Regions from separate parts of the Homo sapiens genome. Here regions 1 and 2 are each linked to region 3. Evidence: fine-mapped expression QTL. A gene starts in region 3. Each other region holds a variant in brackets. All regions are shown on one strand. Distances are between the middles of the regions.

Evidence for each region. PIP is the estimated chance that this variant, and not a neighbour inherited with it, causes the effect.
Region 1: its variant is fine-mapped to the expression of SH3RF3 in whole blood (TOPMed, PIP above 0.99).
Region 2: its variant is fine-mapped to the expression of SH3RF3 in whole blood (INTERVAL, PIP above 0.99).

The regions. Positions count from the first base shown.
Region 1 is chr2:109,220,646-109,228,825 of GRCh38, reverse strand. All of the region lies in intron 1 of SH3RF3 (SH3 domain containing ring finger 3), which reads right to left. It also overlaps a transcript of RANBP2 not described here. Among named protein-coding and RNA genes, the nearest start is that of MIR4265, 83 kb to the right of the region's middle. The variant G/A (reference allele first, on the strand shown) is at 3,461.
Region 2 is chr2:109,026,500-109,034,679 of GRCh38, reverse strand. It overlaps a transcript of RANBP2 not described here. Among named protein-coding and RNA genes, the nearest start is that of EDAR, 41 kb to the right of the region's middle. The variant A/T (reference allele first, on the strand shown) is at 3,095.
Region 3 is chr2:109,124,914-109,133,093 of GRCh38, reverse strand. SH3RF3 (SH3 domain containing ring finger 3) reads right to left here and starts at 3,889. Exons shown (of 10, transcript NM_001099289.3): 1 at 2,981-3,889. The coding sequence starts at 3,553. It overlaps SH3RF3-AS1 (SH3RF3 antisense RNA 1), which reads left to right and starts at 2,975. Exons shown (of 1, transcript NR_029193.1): 1 at 2,975-5,767. It also overlaps a transcript of RANBP2 not described here. RefSeq lists silencers at 3,874-4,073, 4,104-4,153, 4,164-4,233, 4,614-4,673.

The DNA of each region.
Region 1 (8,180 bases), 96 kb before region 3:
GGAGATTCTGGCTGGTGGATGCATCCACCCACCTGGAGAGGGTACATCTAACTCCACAGAGACGGAAGCCCCTGTGCTCAGGACCCTTCCAGACCTCGCCCTATGTACCTCTCCATCTGGCTGCTTGCCTGTATCTTTTATCATGCCCTCCACTAATATAATAAACCAGATTTGCAGCCACGCCACACAGAAGTTCCAGGTAACCTGAAGACACCTCTTGCAACTGGCCTCTGAAGTGAAGGCAGCCTGATGAGATTGAGCCCTTAACCTGCAGGGTCCATACTAGCTCCACATGGAAGGGGTCAGAACTGAACTGAATACCCAGTTGGCATCTGCAAACAACTGGAGAATTGCTTGGTGTGGCAAAACCCCACACACATCTGGTATCAGAAGTGTTCTGGGTGCATTGTGGGTATCAAGGAAAACAGTTGGTTTTCCTCTACAGGGTGACATGTGGAAATAGAACACACATCCCAAACATCTTCAGACTAACAGAGATGCTGTCTACAACACATTTATTGCACCTGCTCATTAATGAGACAATAAAAGCCTTTGGGGGATAGACACGCACTGCTAACACCTGCCACCAAGCACATTCCTGGGGACTAGGAGGGCTGCCGATTGAATTTCTGACAGTATTATAAGCAAGTAGCACCATGTTTGCCAAACGTTGCAAGTACATCATTTGCAGCATGAAAACACAGCCATTAGAGATTGCCTGTATGTGTCAAGAGAGAGTAAAAGTACCAAACCAGACACTCGTACCTGTGTCTGGGCATCACTTTCCTACAAATAAAGGAAAACACTGAACTATTCCCCACTCTTTCCTACCCACAGCAAATGTAAATCCCATGCCCCTTGAGCCAGAAAAGCACCAATGCACGTTTGTTTGGGAAACATCAGGAATGACGGTCACCATCATGAAGCCTACAGGGAACTGCAGTTGCAGACAAACCGATGAAAGGCGGAGCGACCGAAGGGCCAAGGGAGATTGCCAGAGTGAGCGGGAATTCGGGAAAGGAAGTGTTGACTCCAGTTGGCTGGGGGGTGACCTACCCAGAAAAAGAACTTGCGTTGGACCCGAAAGGACTGCACAAGATTCTGGCACTTGCAGAGAAGTGGATCCTGTGACCTGCAGGGAGCACAGCACAGAAGCAGGGGAGCTGCCGTGTACCCCATGAAGCCAGTGGGCATGGCCAGGCCAGATCCAGGGGAATCTCCCACACACAGACAATCCCAAGAGCCAGGGATCTCCCAGAGAAGCAGACAGGGATGAAGGGCAGGGCCCAGGCAGACCCGGGAGCCCACACAAAGCACCCAACATGAAGCAGTCCCTGATAGCTTCAATGTCACCATCCTCATAACTCCAGTCGCATTTGGTTTTTACTTGACTGTGAGAACTTGTGGCTTAGTAAGAAGAACAGCTGGTTACAGAAATGAACCAGGACCCCTAAGGACCTGAGAACCAGGACTTGAGAAGTCCCTTAGTATTGTGACTTTCTGGCATGGACGTGTAGCTTTGTGTGCCTGACATTCACAGAGCTTCTTCTAGCTACAGGCACCAATTTTCTCTTAGCTCCTTCCCCCAACTTTCAGCCCCTGAGGCCTGGGTGGGATCCTCTCAATTTCAGGAGAAAACACACACCCTAAGTCTGAGCCAACCACTGCCACTGCCATCAGTTCACTCAGCCGGAGTGAATCTCGTGAGTTCTGCAGATGTTCCAGCAAAGACCCCAGAAACATGACAAAGACCCCTAAAGCCCTCTTGCACCTATGAAGAGGACAGTGGAGCTGCTAGGCCACCATGGAAAAGCTTGGTGGGACCCAGAGCTAGAAAGAGACCAAGTCCTGATGGCATCATCTGAGCCATGAACCCGGCCATGGTGGATGCATCTACCTCAGGACCCTTGGTTATCTGGGCCACCACACGGCTTTGCTTCTCTCTGTGTTTTGACTGATTCCAGTTAGTTTCTCTCCTGCAGCTGTAGGGGTCCTGGTTCATTTCTGTAACCAGCTGTTCTTCTTACTAAGCCACAAGTTCCTTAATGGCACAAAGCATGTCTATATCTGAATGTCCCCTAAAGATCCAGCACCACGCCTTCTGCGTGGAGATCCTGCAAAGACTTAGGAGCAAACGGAGCCACAAAGGGAGCAGATGCATGGCCCCGGGAGAAGTCAAGATGGCAGACCAAGAAACACTCAGGAAAGGGGAGCGATTCAAGAAGCAATGAGAAAAAGCTAAGAGTGATGAGCCACAAAGTCACCCTAAGAACAGTAAAAATCTAAACTTTAAAGGGACTTAAAAAGAAGTGGTTGCTACAGTTTATTTTTGGTTTATGTCTTAAGAGGTCAGCAGGGTACTTACTTAACGATGAGGACTGCACATGGGCCACGTGTGTCATTAGACCTCACATGGCTCCAGTTCCTCCATGGGCCACAGACACTGTAGATGAAACAGCTGACCTTCCTGAGTCAATGTGACTTTAGCTTTGAAACAGTTGGCAGGGTCATGTTCAAAATGAGCTTATTGATCTGTTTACATAACTACTCTTACATTAACTATTGTAACAAAAAAAATGTAAAAGGAGCCAGTCTTTCTCTAAGTTCCTTCTGCAGATGTTGACAAGCAGAGCTGTGAGCTGGGTTCATAAACCTGGGAAACAGATAATAACTGCTATTTGGGGACAACCTCCTCTGACATTTCCTCCTAAAATTAACAAGTGATTTAGCCTGAGTCAAAAATGACAATATTACAGCTATGCAGATAAGTTGTTCAGGGTCAGGCCTATTTTTTCCTGACAAAATACTACTCTAATATTAAAATGGTATTTTGGTGATTCATTGTGGAGAGCTCCAACAACAGATTAGAATAGGGACTCTTTGAAAGCAAACTTTTAGCTGGCATGGTGGAAAGCGACTATAGTCCCAGCTACTCGGGAGGCTGAGAGGGGAGGATCACTTCATCCCAGGAGGTCAAGGCTACAGTGAGCCGGGATCGCACTTCTGCAGTGCAGCCCGGGCAACAGAGCGAGACCCTATCTCAATTTTAAGAACGAAAGAAAGCAAACTTGAAACTAACTTATAAAAATAAATCTTAAAATTTAAGTCTAGGACAAACACACCACCTGCTCTCCTCTCTGTTCCTGATATTTACAGGAAACAAGACGGTCATCTTTTGATTTTCTAAATTCAAACATGAAAGTGACTTAAGACATTGCAAATGGGAAGTCCCAGAGAGGAACGTGGAGCATCCCACATTAAAAATCATTCCCTGGCCTAACTCTCAGGAGAAAACTCCACATGGTGAGTGTGAGTGGGCCAGGTGGGTCAGCCCACCCAGTCCCCAGTGGGGAGTCGGCCTGGCCTGTATCTTTAAAGGGAGTTGTTTGTGTGAGAATCGTTGTGAAACCTGTTAACGTGCAGATTTCGGGTCCCTGTGAAATGGGTCCAAGCGGAGCCC[G/A]GAAACCCACATTTTGAAACTTCCCTTGGTTACTTGCAGGTCTCTCCACCCAGCTGAGTACAATGGTTTGAGGACTATTCAGCCGGATCCCCAGTGTTTAATAAGCCTTCTTTATTATTATCGTTATTAAAATAGAGCTCTTCATATCCCAGTTGCCAAGAATGGGGCAAGATAGAATCTCAGAACTAGCAGAAGCCATAGAACCTCATTTTACACAAGAGGAAACTGAGGCCAGGGAATTTAAGGGACTGTGCTGGTGTCATCCAGCTTAGTTGGTTGGTCTAAACGAAAAGGCTCCAGGCCAGGTGTCAAAAAGCTATGTCTCAGTCACTTCCTTCTTCCAGACAATCTTTCCTTCAAACCCACAAAATTCTTTTTAAAATAAGATTTTTAAAAAGATAAGGTTATGCTGCAGTTCTCTAGCTGTCCATTAGAGTAGCCACTAGCCACAGGTAATTATTTAAATTTCAGTTTTAATTGACTAGAATTAAATGAAAAAAAATTTTTTTGAGACAGAGTCTTGCTCTGTCACCCAGGCTGGACTGCAGTGGCATGATCTCAGCCCACTGCAACCTCCCTCTCCAGGTTTCAAGCGATTCTAATGCCTCAGCCTCCCAAGTAGCTGGGATTACAGGTGCCCACCACCATGCTGGGCTAATTTTTGTATTTTAGTAGAGACGGGGTTTCACCATGTTAGCTAGGTTGGTCTTGAACTCCTGACCTCAAGTGATCTGCCCGCCTTGGCCTTCCAAAGTGCCGGGATTACAGGTGTGAGCCACTGCGCCTGGCAAAATGAAATTTTAAAAGCCACTTCCTGAGCCACGCCGGCCACATTCATGAGCTCAGTAGTCACCTGTGGCTGGTCGCTACTGTACTGAACAGAGCAGACACAGGACATTTCCATCACTGCTGCTATGCACATGACCTCAAAAACTGCTTCAAGTCCCTTTTACATCAGAACAAAATGCAGATTTAATCTTGGACTAAACCCAGCATGCAATCAAAATCCCACATGCGTATCTGAAAATGTGCTTATTTGTCCAATATGTGACATATAGTTTTAGCATCACTAATAATACCAAACAAGTCTTATTTTACTATGCTTGGTAAAAACCTAATTTTGATAGATCTGATTAGCTATTCAAGCCAAGTTTAAACTCCCAATGCCCACACCCCCTCCATTTGCACATGCACACACACTCTCTAGGCCTGCCAAGCAGGGGCAGAAGTGGGAGACCAGGCCTCAGTTTCTTTTTGTGTAAAACAAGGGGCGAGGCTAGGTAAACCCTGAAGCTATTCCAGCTCTTAACATTCTATCCATTAATGAGCCATGTGGACAGATTTTATTGATTGAATTTGTTTTTGAGACGGAGTCTCACTCTGTCACCTAGGCTGGAGTGCAGTGGCACAATCATGGCTCACTGCAACCCACACCCCCCAGGCTCAAGTGATCTGATCCTCCTACCTCAGCCTCCGGAGTAGCTGGGACAACAGACATGTGCCACCACATCCAGCTACCAAGTGGACAGATTTTAATTTCACTTTCTGCACAAACATGTATTGAACACTTTCATGTGCCAGGAGCAGAGACTAGCAGGGATGGCTCAGAGGCTGTCCTCCACGGCTCTGCAAGGAAAGACAACGACACATCCCGGATCTCCACGTTGGGGCAGCATCACGTGGGGGGCAGAATTCAGGGGAGAGCCATGGAGAGGTGCAGGGCTACCCAGGGAGCACTAAGGAGCTCCAGTTGTCTGCATGGTGCTACTGCCCTCCACCGATGCTTGAATGGAGCCCGCAGCTGAAGCATGTGCCCACACCCCTCAAGCCCTTCCTACGCTTCCATTCTGCTCATTTCCAGCCACTGACCTAGGACTGACATGGGCAGGCCATGCCCACTCCCAAAGGGGGACAATGCCTGAAATAACCGAGGAATCAAAGCACTTCGGCAACTCCATCACAGCGAGCACACGGCAGCTCCTAGTGGCCACTCCTGCTTCTTCGGGCTTCAGAACGCCCCTCTTGGCTCTGTCGGCTCTGGGAAACACACCAGGTAGGCTGCTCACGTGGCTGGTGCTCACGCAGCCTCTGAGGGCTCTGGATCTGGTAACAGCCAACTCCTGGTTATCAGGGCACTTGACTGCATGGGACGGCAGCAAAGGGGGACAAAGCATTCATGATCTGTGGCAGCAGCACCCATGCTGGTTTCAGGAGAAGGTGGCAACCTCATCCTCCCACCTCTCTCCAACCACCTGCTTCCCCCTGTCTGGGATGGAGAAGCATCAGGGCGTGGTGCCAGCCTCTGCCAAGAGGTGGGATCACACCATCTGATGGCCACAGGGGCGGACAGTGCCCTCTTCACCCTGAAGGGTGCAGTGAGTACAGACCCTGTTGATGGGAGAGTATGGGGACCGTAGCCCCAGGCAGGGGCAGGTCCATCCCTCTCACAGCTGGCTGAGTCCCCATGTGGGATACACGCGGACACCTTGGGGATGCCATGTGGTCACAGAGGACCTGCGCTGCTGGCTGAGAACTGGAAAATGTGCTTTATTTCCTGTGTTTTGTTTTGTCTTTTAGCAAACCAAAAAGTCCTTAGGCAGACCACCTAATTTAACAGAAACACTGGATGTCAGTGGTAGAAGAAAGGAGCCCACGCCATCCCAGGGTTTTAGGGAGGAGGTACAGGGAAGGCCTGGCCAGGCTCCACAGGGCCAGCATAGGCCACCAGGGCACCACCCTTCCTAGGCCCAGTCCAGGGCACACGCGTGCTGTGGATGCTGGAGGCTAAGCCCAGGGCCTGCTCTCCTGGCCTCTCACCCTTGCCCCTCCAACAATGCACTCCCTCTGCTGAAGGATGGACTCTTTTTATTTTTTTGGAGGAACTTTTACTGATACATAATAATTGTACATATTTATGGGGTACATATAATATTTTGATACATACAATGTGTAATGATCAAATCAGGGTAACTAGCATATCCATCACCTCAAATCTTTATCATTTCTTTGTGTTGGGACATATTCAAATCTCTTTTAGCTATTGTAAAATATACAATAAATTGTTGTTAACTAATCACCCTGCTGTACTATCAAACACGAGAATTCATTCCTTCTGACTGTATGTTTATACCCTTAACCAACCTTTCTTTACCTCCCTACCACCAACACATCCTTTCCAGACACTGGCATCTGGCACTCTACTCTGTCTTCATGCGAGCACCTTTTTTAGCTTCCACATATGAGTGAGATCGTCCAATATTTGCCTTTCTGTGCCTGGCTTGTTTCATTTACCATAACCACCTGCAGTTTCATCCATGTTGCTGCAAATGACATGATTTCATTCTTTTGAAAGGCTGAATAGTATCCCCTGTGTTTTTTTTTTTTAATCCATTCATCAGTTGATGGACACTTGGGCTGATTCACATCTTTGCTATTGTGACTAGTGCTGCAATAAATGCAGGGGTGCAGGTATCCCTTTGATACACTGATTTCTTTTCCTTTGGATAAATACCCAGCAGTGGGATTGTTGGATCATATGATAGTTCTAGTTTTCGTTTTCTGAGAAACTTTCCTACTGGTTTCCATAGTGGCTGCCTTATTTATGTTCCCACCAATAGTATATGTGAGTTCCCTTTTCTCCACGTCCTTAATCCCATTAAAAATTGGGGAAGGAAAGGAAGAGACATTTCTCAAAAGACACAGAAATGGCCAACAGGTTTATGAAAAAATGCTCAACATTACTAACCATCAGGAAGATGCACACTTTTTTTTTTTTTTTTTTTTTGAGATGGAGTCTCACCCTGTCACCCAGGCTGGAGTGCACTGGCGCGATCGCGGCTTACCGCAGCCTCTGCCTCCCAGGTTCAAGCAATTCTCTGCCTCAGCCTCCCGAGTAGCTGGGATTACAGGCGTGCACCACCACACTTGGCTAATTTTTGTATTTTTAGTAGAGACAGGGTTTTGCCATATTGGCCAGGCTGGTCTCAAACGCCTGAGCTCAAGTGATCTGCCTGTCTCAGCCTCCCAAAATGCTGGGATTACAGCCGTGAGTCACCTGGCCCAGCCAGGAAGATGCACATTAAAACCACAATAAAATATCACCTCCACCCAGTTAGAATGGCTGTTATTGAAAAGAAAAAAATTAAGAGAGGCTGACTAGGATGTGGAAGACTGACTTTTTATTCCAGGTCCATGGTTCCTCTGTGCATGACTTGTATGCACCTCACTTATTTCACTCAGCATAATGACTTCAAAGTTCATCCATGCAGCACGTGTCATAACTTCATTTCTTTCTAAGGCTGAATATTCCTCAACTGTGTATACATACCACATTTTGTTTACCCTGTCATCTGTCAGTGGACATTTGGCTATTATGAATAATGCAATTATGAACATTGGTGTACACATATCTGTTTCAGTCCCGGTTCACAATTCATTTGGGTATAAGCCTAGGAATAGAACTGCTGGATTATATAGTTAATTCTGTGTTCAAATTATACAGTAATTGCATGTTCAAACTCCTTTCACACTGTTTTGCACAGCAGCTGTACCATTTTATATGCCCACTAGCATAACAATTTCTCCACATCCTAACCCTTATTATCTTCTACTTTTTGGAAAATGCCCCTTCTAACAGGTGGGAATGGTTTCTCACTGTGGTTCTGATTTGCATTCCTCTAGTAACAAATGACATGAAGCATCTTTTCATGTGCTTACTGGC
Region 2 (8,180 bases), 98 kb after region 3:
CAATGAATCTAGGAGTACAGGATGATGAAGATGGGGCACCCGGCCCCACCTTAGCTCCATGAAGTGGCCTGAGCCAGGTGTAAAAGGAGCTGAATTTGCTTACATGGTGGCTCCAGAACCAGCTTTTGCCTCACTGTGCCTCCCTCTGCCTGCTGGCTTGCTGCTTTGTCTTTCTTCTTCGCCTCTCTTGCCATAGCCCCTCAGCTTGGCTCTGCAATACTCCACGTTCCTCACTTCCCTGTGCTTTCATTCCCTAAACGCCAGTCTCTTCCTCTGGGGCATGGCCCTGGGGCCTCCCACTGAAATTGACCCAATAGTCCCATAAATAGTTTTTTGGATAAACGTAGAAATTGACCCTTCTGGTTCTAAAGTTTGAACCTTCCTTTTTTTTTTTTTTTTTTTTTTTTTTGAGATGGAGTCTCACTGTGTCTCCAGGCTGGAGTGCAGTGGCACACTCTTGGCTCACTCCAACCTCCACCTCCCGGGTTCAAGTGATATTCTCCTGCCTCAGCCTCCCGAGTAGCTGGGACTATAGGTGCCTGCCACCACACCCGGCTAATTTTTTGTATTTTTAGTAGAGATGGGGTTTCACCATGTTTGCCAGGATGTTCTCCATCTCTTGACCTTGTGATCCTCGTGATCCACCCACCTGGCCTCCCAAAGTGCTGGGATTACAGGCGTCAGCCAACACACCTGGCTGAACCTTACCTTTTTTTTTTTTTTTGGAGTCAGGGTCTCCCTCTGTCGCCAGGCTGAAGTGCAGTGGTGCAATCTCGGCTCACTGCAGCCTCTGCCTCCTGGGTTCAAGCAATTCTCGTGCCTCAGCCTCCCGAATTGCTGGGACTACAGGTGCCCGCCACCACACCTGGCTCATTTTTTTTGTATTTTTAGTAGAGACGGGGTTTCACCATGTTGGCCAGGCTGGTCTCGAACTCCTGACCTCAAATGATCCACCCGCCTCAGCCTCCCAAAGTGCTGGGATTACAGGCATGAGCCACCGCCTCTCAAAAAAAAAGTATCATCAAAGAAGGGAAACTCACCAGATCAACACATCCAGACAATGAGATACCCTACATTGTGACTGCTTCCTTGCCCCTCCGTAGTTCCTGTTTTCTTACACACTGTTATCTTTCTTCCCTGGTGTATAAACCCCTAGTTTTAGGTGGATGGGGAGATGGATTTGAGACTGGGCTCCCATCTTCTCAGCTACAGCACCTGATTAAAGCCTTCTTCCTTGGCAATACTTGTCATCTCTGTGATTGGCTTTCTGTGCAGGGAGCGGCAGGACCTAGACAGAACCTGGGTGTTTCGGCAACACCACCTGCCTCTGCTTCCGAGGGCACACTCAAAAAGGAGGGGACTGGGCCCGTGCATTCACCTCAGTGTCTCTGTTTCACAAAAGGAGTCGTGGAAATCAGAATAATCAAAATCTCAGCTCACAGAAATGAGCGAGGCTGAATGCAAAATTAAAGTGGACAGGGCCCATCAACAGCCTGAAAGGGGCTTTGTTATTCCTTCCTAGGGAAGTCATCACCTCTCAGAGAAGTGTCTGGCTGAGTAATGACCAAACATGAAAGGTCTCTGTCCACTCAAGGCATGGATCATACTAAGGCCTGGTGATCAGTTTAAAGGAAATGTATTTCCCATGGCTGATGTCCACAACGTTCAGCTTCCAAGGGTTCAGGAAGGACTTATATTTCACCCTGCCATGACATGGGTCAAATATGAGGCCTCTTTGAAAATCCAGGGAAAATTAGCTCCTGGTGACATAGGATGCACTTCTTAGCTCCTAGTTGCCCATCTGGAGTTCTCTGTTAGGCCCACAGAATCAGCAAACTCTGTGTGGAATTAGGCGATTGCTCCTCAGTAGTGGCAGTGCAACCGGAGGGAAATTATTGTTCCATTCTGACTTGTGAGTTCCTATAAATCTTAGCTTTAAATCAAATGCTCTGTGAGTTGCTACAGGAGTTTCATTTAACCCACCAGCCTGTGCAAGAGGTGAGAGGTGGCCCGACTGTGAAATCCCAGAAGACACATCTAGTTGGCCAAGGCCTCTGCTCTCAGCTGGAGGAAAGACTCCCCCACCCCACCCCATGGGGAGGGGAGAAAGCGCATGGATGGAGTGGGATGAAGAATGGAGAGTGAGGAGAAAGCCCTTCCATGGTGTAAAAGTCAGGGCATCCGCTGAAGCCTCTCACACATTCGACCGATGTCACCCCAAGGAGCAGTTTCACCAGACAGGGTGCTGAGTCTAGCACAGCATCTGTTTGCAGACGGTGCTTGAAAGGACTGAGGTTGGGTCCTGGAGTTCTAAAGTTCTAACCCTTTTCTTCTGTCTTATTTCACCTTCCTGCAAAACAAAGAGGGGGTGGGGAGGGACAAAAAAAATCGCTATGCAGAAGTTCACTCCGGAAAATGCCCTGAAATAAAATCAACAAGATTGATGTGCAGGCAGACAGGTAATAACTTTAGAAGTGAAAGAAATCTCCAAAGATCTATGACATTTTTAACAAAACAGGGGGAAGGTGGGCAGCGCTCAAAACTGCAGAGCGGTAATTACACCCACAGGAAGTCTCTAATGAACTTGAAAACAAAGCTCCGAAGAAAGGGAAAGAAGATAACTGCAGAGTTCTGTTTACGTAACCGTAGGGGGTTTGAACACCAAGAACTTACAGCTCCTGAAACGCGGTGAGGAAATGGGAGGGAGGGCAGCGAGCGTTCAGAGTTTTGGCAAAAGGTCAAAGAGAGTGAACGGATGTGGGGGGAGGGGAAGAAGGTGGCGGGGGGTGGGTGGTAGCGCTCACGGGACAAGAAATTGAGCAAACAGAAAAGCTTAGTTGCTGAAGAAAATACTTAGAGGAAGGAGGGTTCTCTTCGCTGGGGGCAAAGTGGGGCAGCTTTATCCCGCCTGTGGCCCGGAGGTAGGCGTTGGCGCAGGTCTCGCCGGCGCCCGCAGCGCGTCCAGGTTGCCACCGGCAGAGCCCGGCCCACGTGGCCGACGCTGAAGCGGCGCTCTCCGTTCCTCCAGCGGGCGCTTCCCGGCCGAGCTGCAGGGGGTGCACACAGCAGAACTTCACTGCGCCCTCCTCGCCGC[A/T]CGTGGGGCCAGGCCGTGCGCTAGAGACCCGCGGACTCGGTGCAGCCCGGCGAGGCGGGCAGAGCCGACTGCTGGGTCTGAGCGCGCATCCCCTGCTGCTACTGATTGAAGCCCAGTCCCCGGTGCAACAGTAGTAAGAGGGGGCCTCCAGGGAAGTGATTCCGTCGTAAGGGGAACGGGGCTGATAACCTTATAAGAAGGCTGGAGGAAGCTGTTTCCTCCCTTCCGCTCCTTCTGCAGAGCGTTCCCGTCTCTACCCCACCCCTGCCACATCAGAGCCCCCATCTGTGCTGAGTCAGCCAGCACCCATCAAGAAGCCCCCATCTGTGAGGAACAGGCCCCCCTCACTGCTGACACCTTGATGGTGGACTTCCAGCCTCCAGCACGGTGAAAAGGAAATGGCTATTTATAAATTACTCTCTAAGGTGTTTTGTTGTAGCAGCAGGAATGGACTTAGGGACCCGGAGTTCTTACCATTGCCCAATCACAATACCCTTAGACTCCAGCATCTCCACACATGGCGTCCCCTCGTGGAGCGCTCCGTGTCTTACCATGAGTCAGTGAGACAAAAGGTGCAGATGACACTGATGGTGGTATACATGCACACTGTGTTAGTCTGTGTACTAGTTATGAGTATATATACCAATTATTAAACCATTTTACCAAGAAAATAAAGACTTGGGAGATGTTAAAAAACTGCCAAAGTCGGGTGTGGTGCACCTGTGGTCCCAGCTACTCTGGAGGCCGAGGCAGAAGGACTGCTTGAGCCCAGGAGTTCAAGACCAGCCTGGGCAACATAGTGAGACCTAGAAAACAAACAAACAACAACAACAACAACAAAAACTGTCAAGAGACAGAACCTGGATAAGAAGTGGGTTATATAAACCAAAGTGGTCCAAAAATTCAGATGCCTGAGGGGCCCCAAGCTGGTCCTAGGTACTCAGGAAAGTACAATTCTAGAAGGAGCCTTCTGCTTAACAGCCTGCTGGTCATCCTCAAAGAGGCCACCACTCCCCACTCCTTCTCAGGGAGCCTCATCCCATCAGACAGTGAGGCCCATTCTTTCATTCATTCAGGTCATATTTACTGTCTATCCAGAATGCACCAGGCACTGTGCTAGGTGCTACTATACACATTATCACATTTGGCAGGGTATGGCACACCTCTTCATTTAAAAATAACCTTTCCAATGACATTAACAATGGGCTTTACTTACGTGAAATTCACTTAAAATAGAATTCTAAGGAATTTTACGTAGCATACCATAATTTGGCTAGAGGAGAAGGCTGGGTCTTCAGTGGGAAAATGTTGAAGGTAAAGCACTTGAGCGCATGGCCTGCTGGGGAGAGTGCTGAGCCAGCTGGCTGTGCAGGGGAGGATTGAGGAAAAGGCTGAAAATGAAGGCTGAGGATCAGTTTCATGAGCTCTCGAATCCAGGTTGATTTGAAACTGTTCTTTGCATAGGCAGAACATTCTGAGGTAGCAAACAAAAGTTAGAGTCAAAGAATTCTTTCTAAAGAATGATGTCAAGGAGGCAGTAAATCTAAGACTCACCCACACACTCGAACTGGCACTCAGTAAATGCTTACTGAATGAATGAATCAATCAATCCATCAATACAGAGATAGCAACCAGGATCCTTGTCAAGTCAAGAGGGTTATTAGTATAGTATTTCTTTAAAATAAACAGCCTTATCTGTGAGCAAAATAAGAGGCTGCCCCTGAAGGCTAAGGATGTCTGCATCCATTTGAGAGAAACAGCCTTTCATTGTGCAATGATTAGGCTTAAGTTGCTGGCAAGGCTGGAGACAAGGATAGAGATGAAAGGCTGGATGATGGCTGCCGGGGGGCCCTGTCCTGCAGCTGTTCCAGCCAGGAAAGGAGAGGGGAACAGAGGAGACAGCACAGGCAGCAGGCAGGCATCCCAGGCCGAGGAAGGAGGGAGGGCTCCCCAGGGTCACCCTGCTCTACTTTTGGAGCCTGATGCTGTAAAGTTTGCCCGGCAGGGACACACATGCTGCAGAATCTCCTCTTTCCCCTCATTGAGAGGACCAGGTTTTCCCTTGGAAACGGACAGACACACACTGAGCTGCTGCTTCCCAGGAGGGCTGAGGCACCCTTCAATAACTTCAGGCATCAGTGTCAGCCACATCATGGTTTCCCACCTCCAGATTCCCATGCCTTCCTTACCCTAATGAAGTTTCTCCCATTTACACATGGTCCCTCATCATCCCTCTCCTGGATGCTTTACTAGCTTTATGGAAGGAACTTGGAGGAGTGGCCAAGGCAGAACCCAGCAGCTGCGGCCATGGGGGTGAATGGGGGCTGGGATGGGGAGGGACTCCATAGACTCAGTGTTGACATGAAGGAGGAAAGGGCCCAGGTGTCCTATTAACAGTAATAACAATAATCTTGCCTTAAACCTTATTTATTTATTTATTTATTTTATTTATTTTTGTAGTTTAGAATGAGGTGAGGGCTAAAGAAATAAACAATCACATAGGCCGGGCACAGTGCCTCACGCCTGTAATCCCAGCACTTTAGGAGGCTGAGGTGGGAAGATTGCTTGAGCCCAGGAGTTTGAGACCAGCCTGGGCAATATGGCAAAATCCTGTCTCTACTAAATAAATAAATAAATAAACAAACAAATAAATAAATAAACAATCACAACTAAAGTCGTGACAGCCAGATTCACACATGCATTCTCAGTTGGCCCTCACAGTCCCTGACAGCCACACAGATCCTGAGAGTGTGAGGCTGCTCTGGAAGACAGGAGTGGGGCTTAGACCCGATGACCTCTAAGCTCTGTTCTGCTGCTTTAGGTCCAGGGTCAAGGTGTAGGAGGGGCAAGATATGTGTGGGGGAAGGGCAAGAACCGGGCCTACTGACTTAAGCTACTCATTTGGGTGCATGTCTGCCACCCTCGGAGGGCCTGTGGAATAGGTCAGAGCACTCCTCTAAGTGAGGGCTGTTGGGATCGGATGCTTAGGGCACAGCAGAGGAGATTGAAACAGCATTCAGCACTGTCCAGATGTTGATGCAAGGACTGTCACCCTCAAATACAGTGTGTCAGCCACCATGAGCCACTGTGCAGGAGGGCCTGAGGGTGGCGTGTGGAGACAGGCCTCCCAGCAACGGGGAAGCCAGGGTGCAGCAGCAGGGCCTACCTTCTTGGTGTAAGGCTCTTCCTTCAGTGGAGGTAAGGGCCGTGGCCCAGCATGCACTTTGTACTTTCCATTAGCCCTGAGGCTCAGGTGTCAATTATGGTTTAGCATTTAAAATCGAACAATATGTTTTTATTTTATTTATTTCTTTTGAGACAGGGTCTCACTCTGTCACCCAGAGTGGAGTGCAGTGGCATGATCATGGCTCACTGCAGCCTCAACGTCCTGGGTTCAGGTGATCCACCCACCTCAGCCTCCTGAGTAGTGGAGACTACAGGTGTATGTCACCTGGCCCAGGTAATTTTTTGCATTTTTTGTAGAGACAGGGTTTCACCATGTTGCCCAGGTTGGTCTCAAACTCCTGGGCTCAAGATGTCTGCCTGTCTTGGCCCCCCAGTGTGCTGGAATTACAGGCGTGAGCCACCTCACCCTGCCAGTATGTTTTTAAACAGTACCAGGAAAGCCTTGAGCTCTTCCCTGCCTCAGCAGGACACATGCATTAACTGGCAGAGCCCAGTGCTCCCTCTGAGGATGGATCTGTGAGTAGCAGCTCTGGGAGAGACAGAAGTAGGGGACTGGCAGGGACTCAGAGCCTGCAGGGAGAAGGAAGACGCATGGCGGGGAGGCCAGCATGCCAGGCTGCAGAGCTGCCGCCCACCCACCCCGCCCACTCCTGGAGCCCAGGCCCTCATCAACTCTAGGTCTTGCTCCTGGCCTAGGTCCTGCTGAGTCCCCATAGTCATAACGACGCTTACGCAGCACTGCTTCCTTCCAGATACTTTGTCCACGTCAGTGCCCAATAACCCTGTGAGGTCTGTCACCACTTACAGGAGGGGAGCTGAGGCCCAGGAGGGCTTAGGCCCTGCCCAGGGTATCATAAACAGAGGGTGGATGGACATGCCAGGCTCAGAGCCTGTGCCTTCATGTCAGGCTCCACAGGCTTCCTTGGCTCCATGCTGCCTTCAAAAGAGGAAAGTTACTTTTGTCTTCAAAATCCAGTCTTTCCTTATGGCTTCAAAAGCTCTTCCCTTGAAGACTCCACAAAGGAACAAGATGTCTGGGGTCTGGCTGGGCCCAGGAGACCTCTGCAATGCCTCCAAGATGAGGCTAGTCCCCCAGGAGACCCACCCTCCTTCAAGAAGTCTTCAGAGGTCCTTGTTTTTTTTTTTTTTTTTTTTTTGAGACAGAGCCTCACTCTGTTGCCCAGGCTGGAGTGCAGTGGTGCAAATCTTGGCTCACTGCAACCTCCGCCTCCAGGATTCTAGTGATTCTCCTGCCTCAGCCTCCCAAGTAGCTGCTATTACAGGTGCGAACCACCACGCTCAACTAATTTTTGTATTTCTAGTAGAGATGGGATTTCACCACGCACCAAGCTGGTTTTAAAATCCTGACCTCAAGTGATCTGCCCACTTTGGCCTCCCAGAGTGCTGCAATTACAGGTGTGAGCCACCACACCCGGCCAATGTCTTCAGAGGTTCTTTTTTATTTTTTGAGACGCCCACCACCATGCCTGGCTAATTTTTTGTATTTTTAGTAGAGACGGGGTTTCACCACATTAGCCAGAATGGTGACCTCGTGATCCACCACCTTGGCCTCCCAAAGTGCTGGGATTACAGGCGTGAGCCACTGCACCCGGCCACTTCTAATGATTTTTAAGAAGTATTTGGCAGCTCTGAATTGGCAAGTGTGGAAATAAGACTGAGAGGAGCAGCTGTTTCTAAAAGATCATTTTGAGCTTTTTCCCCACCTAGAGGGTGCCGAGCAATCAGGATGTGAGGGGCACAGTCTGGGCTGCTGCTTTCCCCACTTGAATACATGACATATCCAGTGTATCCTACACTAACGGTGCTTCCTCACCTTAGAGCTGGGAGCTCATGACTGCATAGCCAGCCTTTGGTCCCCTTGCTTCAGAGGGAAGAGGGG
Region 3 (8,180 bases):
TACCTCTACTGTCAGCTCCATCCAGAAAGCCCAAGCCAGTCTTGTTTACCTATAATAGTGCCTAGCCGAGTCTACATGAACTGCAGAAGATGTTCTGTATAGGCTCAAATATAAGTCAAGGATTTAAAAAATTTTCAAAACAAAATTGGAATTGTCTGATATTCAAGTCCTTATTAAATCACTTACATTAAAAAGCATGTTTTGAATTACTCAATGTGGAACCACAAAACTCTTTTAGCAAGACTCCCACTGCACTGAAACAATTTGATTGATGCTAGCTTGGGATGTTAAAGGGATTTTCTTGCAAAATAGTGAAAACAAAACAATAAACAAACAAGTTAGCCTGAGAAATTTAGCATACATTAGCAACTGCAAGGGTTAGACAGTACCATTAAAACAGGACTGTTTAAAGGTCACTTCAAGAAGTAACACATATGAACACACTTTAAGAAGCAACACACATATAGTATTTGCCAACAGGCAAATAAAAAGACCAACTCCTGATCTTAGGCTATGGGTACTCGTCACTGGGTATATTATTTCCAGGGGCAGCATCGTTAACTGACTCCACAAAAGCGCTTTATCTCAAATGGCTCAGGTGAGAGCAGAGCTGAGAGGTTCTGCTAACCACGTCAGGGGACTCCAAGTACTCTGGTGATCACCAAAACCGATGAAAAACAACAGGTAAAGAGTTCAGGAAAACACTGTTTTGTGTCCTGCCAGTAAAACCAAACAGAAATTAAAACTTTTTTTTAAATAAAGCTGTCAAAATATTGAACCGTAACAAAATTAATAAAGTAAACAAGCTATGCCAATACTTACCTATATACCTAAAAAGTATACATACCCTAATTGGCCCAAAAGAAGATGTAAGGAGCTTCTAATTGGAAAATGATGGGACTGTAATATTTATGGTTACCTGCTATCATGGCATATTAGTTAAATAAGTGCCCCTCTATTAAACAACATGCAACAACATCCAGCATTCAACTTTCCTGGCAGGAGTCAAGCAATTCCAATGGACAGTAAAGTACCAAAAGTAATTTTCAGCCGAAATCTTTGTCAACCAACTGTATAGGGTTGCTCAATGCCTGATATGCTATTACAATCCTTCCCACTCCCGAAGCATGTGCTGGACCTAATGCTATTATCCCAGCATGGTAGTATAGTGCTAGTGTAGTGTGAATACACCATGCGGGACTCCTGCTTATTAGTTAAATAAGTGCTCGTCTATTAAACAACATCCAGAAACATCCCAAAAACACAAAAAGTCATGAACATGACTATGCACCCATAAAGAAAGTCAACCAAGGGTCTCAACATATGGTGAGTAAAACATCAATTTCCTGCTAATACTAAATGTCACTACTAAAAAGTTCCAAGCTTCAACCCCTTTGACAAGTTCTAAAAGGTACTACAAATGCCACAGAATTCCCGGAGTGGCATCAAAGCTTCAGCCTGTCACATGTCAGAGGTTACCTCCTAACCTCCTGGTCAAACACAAAGTCCCCCAAGATAAACTGAGAGGACATCTGTAAACAGATGGTCATCAGAATGTCCCAGCGTTTTACTAGAAGCGGGGCTCCGAATATCACATAATTTATCAGAACAGAAGAAGGTAACCCACTTATTCTGCAAATAAAGATATTTAATTATAAATACCTTACATCAAAAACAGCAAGGCCAGGAAGGAAAAGTTTGAAAATTTCTAACGCAAGCATTTAGCTGGATTTAATCACAATTAAAACCAAAGAAAAAAATTCCCCTTCAGCAGTGCCCCCCAAGTGACCCCCAGTGACTATCCTTGACTGTCCCCATTCTTCCTGATCCATAGAAAAAAAAACCCATTGCAGCAAAGTATGGCATTTAACTCAAGCTCAACATCCAAGGGTTTAAGTTCCTAACCTTAACCTTAGAGATTTGCAGTACTGCCTAATCCAGGTGCTAGAATGTTCCCAGCATTTCAGGATTACACATAGTGGAAGGACTAGGCATCACCAACTCCTTAAATGGTCAAAAGTAGAGGAATAAAGTTGTGTTTCTAAAGCAAATGATTATTCCAATAGATAATGTATTTTTTTTAACATTTAAGTGCTTTTCTCCATTTAAAGAAATTAACAAAACCCGGGTCCTTTCTTTTCTCATTTAAACCAGCATCCCATGCCCTCTCTCCTGGTAACTGTTCACAAGGTGGCAAGGGTGTGTAATAAGAAGCTGTAAGAAGCTTTTAAAACCAAATCATTGAAGCCATCCAGAGAAGATCTTTCGTCTAAAACAGAAGCAGCGAAGGCCCTAAAATGCGGCTGTACCAAAAATAATAATAATAAATATAAATGACCCCCGTGGGAATGCAACCCTGCCTGGGAGCCCAGGAGAAGACCTTGGCTTCTGGTTAGACACTGCCAAGTCCAAAAGGGCTGGGTCAAAAGGCTCCTGGGGCCTCCAGATTAACTCCTTCCAGACTACTAGAAGCATTCCTCCAAACCCCAGTCCCACTCTGCCTTCTGCCCTCCCCTCCTTAGCCACACCGCAGGCAGGAGGCCCGCGGGCTTCCCAGAGCAGCCATCAGAGCCCTGTCAGAAACGTTAAGGGCTAACTTTTCTCTAGGCAGGCCCAGGGTGTGCAGAGGGAGTGTCTGGGGACCCAGAGGAAGAAGGTCCCCGTTTCTAGGGAGACGCAAGGGCGATGCTAAGTTTAAGAGGCAGGGTAACAAGTCCGGCCAAGGAATCGGGGGTGAGCGACGGGACAGGAAGGCGTGCCCACTCCACAGGAGGATGGGACACACGTGAACAAGCGGCGAGCTGCCCAGGGGCCGGATGCCGCCACCAAGCAAGCGAAGTTGGAGGAAGAGCAACAGCGGAGTGGGCCAACGCAGGACCACCCGTGGTCTCCTCCGCACCTCATCACTGCCCCCCACGCCCAAGCACCCACCCACACACTCCCACGTGCCGTGGCCACTTCCGCCGAGACAGATACTCACCTTTGCCGCCGGCGCGGTCCTGCTGGTCGCCAGCTCCCGCAGACTGCCGGCGGTGCTGCCCGCGGCCGCGGAGAGGAAAACCGGGGAACCCGGGGTGCTGCCTGCCGCGCCGCCCCCGCCGCCCGCGAGCGTGGGGGCCGCACTCTGGCCTGGGATGGGACGCGCGGGCGGGCTGCCGCCGGGGCTGGTGCCCGCGCGGGGCCGCTGACGGATGCCGTCCAGCAGTCGCACCAGCAAGATGTTGGCGGGCAGTTCGTCCACGCCGCAGCCCACCAGGATGCGGCACTCGGGGCAGCGCAGCTCGTGGCGCGAGCACACGATGCTCTCCAGGCAGCGGCGGCAGAAAGTGTGTTGGCATGGCAGCACCTTGGCCGTGGTGTCCAGGCGCTCCAGACACACGGAGCACTCCAGCAGGTCCAGCAGCGACGACTCGTCCATGTCCTCGCCCGCCCCCGCGGCGGTGGCCGCCGCCCGACGCCGCCGTCGCTCGCCTGGCCTGTCCTCGTCGCCCTCGCTCTGCGCAGCAGCGGCGGCCGCCTTGGATGCGCACAGCCAGGACGCTCCGAGCAGCATGGGGGAGGCGCCCGCAGCGGTCTCGCGCGGCTGCCTAGGTCCCGGGGCCGGCGTGGAGCCCGCCACCGGCAGCCAGCATCAGGACTGGGGAGCCGGGCTCCGCCGTGACTTTCTTCACCCCGGCTGGTGGCCCGATGCTAGGGCTGTGGCGGTGCGAAGTGGCTCACCGACCGGCCTGCGTGGCGGGGACCGGCCTGCGTGGCGGGGACCGGCCAGCCGAGCCCGCCCAGTCCTGAGCGCAGCGCCTGCGGCTGCGGGCTACACCTGTCCCGCCGCAAGTCCGCCCCGCGCGGGGGACCGGGGGTGCTGCCGGGCACGAAGCTCAACGGGTTCTGTGCTGCAAGCGGCGGCTCGCGCCTGGGAGACCAGCGGCAGGAAGTGCGGGCAGCGGCCGGCCAGGTCCCCGGGGAGGCCGGGGCGCGGCGTGCACGCTCCTCCGCGCAGCTGGCGAGCCGCACCGCCCCCGCGGCACCTCCATGCGCCCCTGGCCTGCTCGCTAGTCGCTGTCCTCCAGAGGATTCAGCAGGACCGTTCCTCTTCCTCGGCCGCGAGCACGTGCGCGGGGGTGCGCGCGGAGGTCACGGTCACTGCGGGGCTCAGGGAAGGAGGCGCCGTGCCTGCAGGACTTCCCTTCGCTTGGGCGCAAGCCGGCGATTAGCCTGGTCCCCTAGGACATCTCCAGGGCTCCGGGGAACCTCTCCTGCGCAGGCTTGGCCCTGCCTCCTCCAAGCGTCCGAGTCTTTTTCGGCTTTTCGTGAGCCTCAGAGAGGGACGTTTCCTGCCAACGCTGCTGCGAAGGAAAGTTTGGGCGGCGTTATCCCGACTGCCTTCCTCGCCAGCGCCGGCGAGCAGCTTGGGGACACAGCCGACGCCCGGGCATCCTCCCCGACGACCCCCCGGAGCGCTCCCAGTTCAGACTCCTTTCCGAGAAGCGCGCAGAAGTGACAGCCCCGGAGCTTCGTTCCGGTGTAGGTGTGGGGATGCGCCGCAAGGCAGGAGGGGAAGGCGCTCCAGTTGAAGGGGGCACCCCGGGGCCCGCGCCGACTCCTCCCGGCGCAGCCTTGGCTCGCCGGAGTCGCGGGTCGGAGGCTGGCGCCGCTGCCCGCCGACCAGCACCCTGGCGCCAGGCGCCCGGCTCCACGCCGCACCCTTGGCGACGCTGTGCGAGGGGCTCTAGCGCCCGCCGCGGCGCAGTCTCGTGAACCCCCGCTCCAATTTTTTCCTACGGAGGCGCAGAGGAGGGTGAATTCGCGCTCTCCTTCCCGACGCCCCGGCTTCTGGGAGCGTCAGAGCAACGGAAGTACGTACAGGAGGACCGAGAGCAGCAGGGAAGTTTGGCGGTGGGCTGGGGTCGGCGGCGAAGATTCCCTGCCGTGCGCTGCCCCCTCGTGGCCGCTTTGCGTTCCCGTCGGGAAGGGCTGGGTTCCAGTCCAGGGCCCAGCACAAACCAGGATTGGTTGGACGCTGCACAGCGAGTTCAGTCAGGGCTAACATCAGAAGAGTCGTGGGGGGCCTGCCTATCGGCCAGCCTGTCCTTGTGGTTTGTGAAGTTGTATGATCTTTCTGTTATTATTAAGGAAAAAAGTAGTATTTGTTGAGGCTAAAAGGCCAAGAGCGTGCTATATATTATTTAATCCTCTAAACAGCTCTGCCAGATAATTATTTTATTTATTTATATTTACTTCCATAGCTTTAGACAGGATCTCGTTCTGTCAGGCAGGCTAGAGCGCGGGGTGCTATCACGGCTCACTGCAGCCTCAAACTCTTGGGCTCAAGCCATCCTTTCACCTCAGCCTCCTGAATAGTTGAAACTACAGGTGCGCCACCACGCCTGGCTAAATTTTTAATTTAAATTTTTTGTAGCGACAGGGTCTCCTTATGTTGCCCAGGCTAGTCTCAAACTCCTGGGCTCAAGAGATCCTCCAACCTCATCTTCACAAAGTGCTGGGAGTACAGGCGCCAGCCACGGTGCCCAACCTGTGATAATTATTTTAAACTCATTTTACAAATGAGGAAAGTGATATTCATACTTGTAAAGCCATTGGGGCTGAATTTTCATTTTTGTATCCACAGAACTAACACATAAAGTTTACATGCCATTAGAATGTAAGCTCTCTGTAAGCTACAGATCTTTTCTACTGTAATATCCTTAGTGCCTAGGGCAGTGACTAGCATATAGTAGGTGTTCAATAAATATTTGTAGAATTAATGAAAGGATACGTCTCTCTTTCTCTCTCTCCCTCTCTCTCTCTCTCTCTCTCATCACCTACTGGTGATTTGAAGGCAGATCTTAGTATCTCAATTACACATATCCTGTGCTTATATCAGGATGCTAGTCCCTGGAAACTTTGCTTCTGATAGCAGCAGGTGGCTTTCTTAACCTGGATGTCTCTCAGCAATGTGGATTTCCATCTGTATGATTTACATCAGCGCCAACAACAGGGTGAGATGGAAAGCATCCCAGAGCTGCCTGGCTTCCCTTGAGGGCCGAAGGAAGGGCACACACCTCGCAGTGCATGGAAACATGTTCACATGAGCCACCTTTCACTCTTACCCTTGCTCAGGAACAAGGGGAATTTTTTAGAGCACCCAGGATGCTTGATCCAAGAGCAGATGGTAGACAAGGGGGAGCATAAAGAGGGGACCCATCAGGCACTGGAAGGGCTCACAGAGAGCAAGGACGGCCTGTGACGACATGCCCTGGTGCTTTTGGTTGCAAGCAACAGAAACCAACTCTAGGTAAATTTTAAAGGGAGCAGAATATACACTAATAATACGAGGCATCTCATAGGATCCCAGGCTAAGAGCTGAGCCAGATTAGCACAGATAGAGCCTGCAGTGTGTGTTGCTGTCCCTGTCTCTAGTTGATGACTCAACCCTTCACTTTCTTGCACCAGCTGCCTCTGCTTCCCAACCCACATGACAGAAAATGCGGTCAAATCTTCATGAGCCTTTCTTCCAACAACATCAGCCACTCCTGGAAGTTCTAAAACTCTATCACTAGTATGGACCAGTGGTCACTCTTTGGACCCGTGTGCCTTGGCCACAGGAGCAGGATCATCTGGAACCTGGCAGCACTCTCTGTAGTCACACAGGAGAAGTGAGAATTTCCAGAAGAATTGCCGTGCTGGGCAGTCAGAACCACAGATGCCCGTGCCAGAAGCTCACCGCCACATCTCTGCCCTCAGTACATCTTTATCTTGCACGACCCAAGACAGACAAGAGCAAGAGAGAGCCACTTAAGCCCACCTTTCCCAGCTTTCTTCTCTCTCCACTTTACCCCTTTTGCCCCTGCCATAACCAGCACCCACAGGACACACAGACTATGCACCCAGATGTCCACAGTGACTGGGCAGGGCATGAAATTAACGAAGCAGGGTGAACCCCAGGCAACAGGGCCTGGTGGGGACTGCAGTGAGCTTTGTCTGCACCCTTCAGAGGAAGTAGCTGCTGCCCAGCTCCAGCCCTGGGGGAATGACGACCAAATGTTGCTAGACCTTCATACCTTTCAAGAGAAGTTGGAAGTGCTGCTTTTTACATGACATCTCCTGATGTTCAACAGTTGGCAACCGATTTAGTTCTCAAAAACCACCATATTAGCCAAACAAAATAAATGTGTGGTCAAATTGGCCTACAGACCGCCAGTTTACAATTTCTGGTTGAAGTAGCCAAGTACACTGTGCTACAGCGTGAGGGAATTTGAGGGTGTGAACTAAATAGTTGAAGTATTACAAATACAGTCTTATGTTACTCGGTTAAATTTGCACATGTTCAATAAGCCAATTATATAAGTAAATAATTGAGAAGACCTGGCTTTACAGCCATTCCTAAAAAGATCTGGGGATTTCAGTTGACCACAAGCATTGTATGAGCCAACATGAGTCATCTATGTACTATGGCTGACTAGAGAAGTAACGAAATCTTCGGATGCCTTCATGAAAGTTAAGGTGGGGGGTGGTCAGGGTTTGGAAAAAAATAATCCCATTGTACCTCAGACTTGTGAGATTACTTCCAATTCTGGGTACCAAAAATTAATGACGATGTGGTAAGGGATCCGGAGGCCTCATCCATGAGTTTCAGTTGAAGGAACACAGGGCGTCTGTCCAAAGGAGAAAAAGCTCAGAGGAAACAGGACTGGACGGCTGTATGTCAGGTTTTTGGCGGCCCAAAATTTGAACTTCTTTTTAGATTTGGAAGACGCTCCACATGGTGATAGTCAGATAATTCTAACCCCCCCACCAACTCTGCTAAGGTGTGGGAATGTGACAGGCTCAGCTAGTCAAAAGCTGCCCCTCCCCCACCACACTCTGGGAGGTGGAGGGACGTGGGCAGAGGAAGCACCGAGAGTTCAGCAGCTATGGGGCAGGTGGCTGGCAGCAGCAGTGCCTGCAGCCTGTAGCATCTCAGAGTGGGGGCACGCCTTGGCAACAGGCCAACCCCAGACTTGACTGCCTGGTGAGCCTGGACTGTAGCCTCCACTGCTTTCCTGGCCTTGCTGTTGATCTTATGGGTTTTCCAATTTCATTTCCTTAGTTTCTTTTTCGTTAAATCAACCAGAGTCCATTTTTGTTGTTTTCAACTGGGAACCCAAATTGATGCACATTATTTACGATAAACAAAGCCCCTC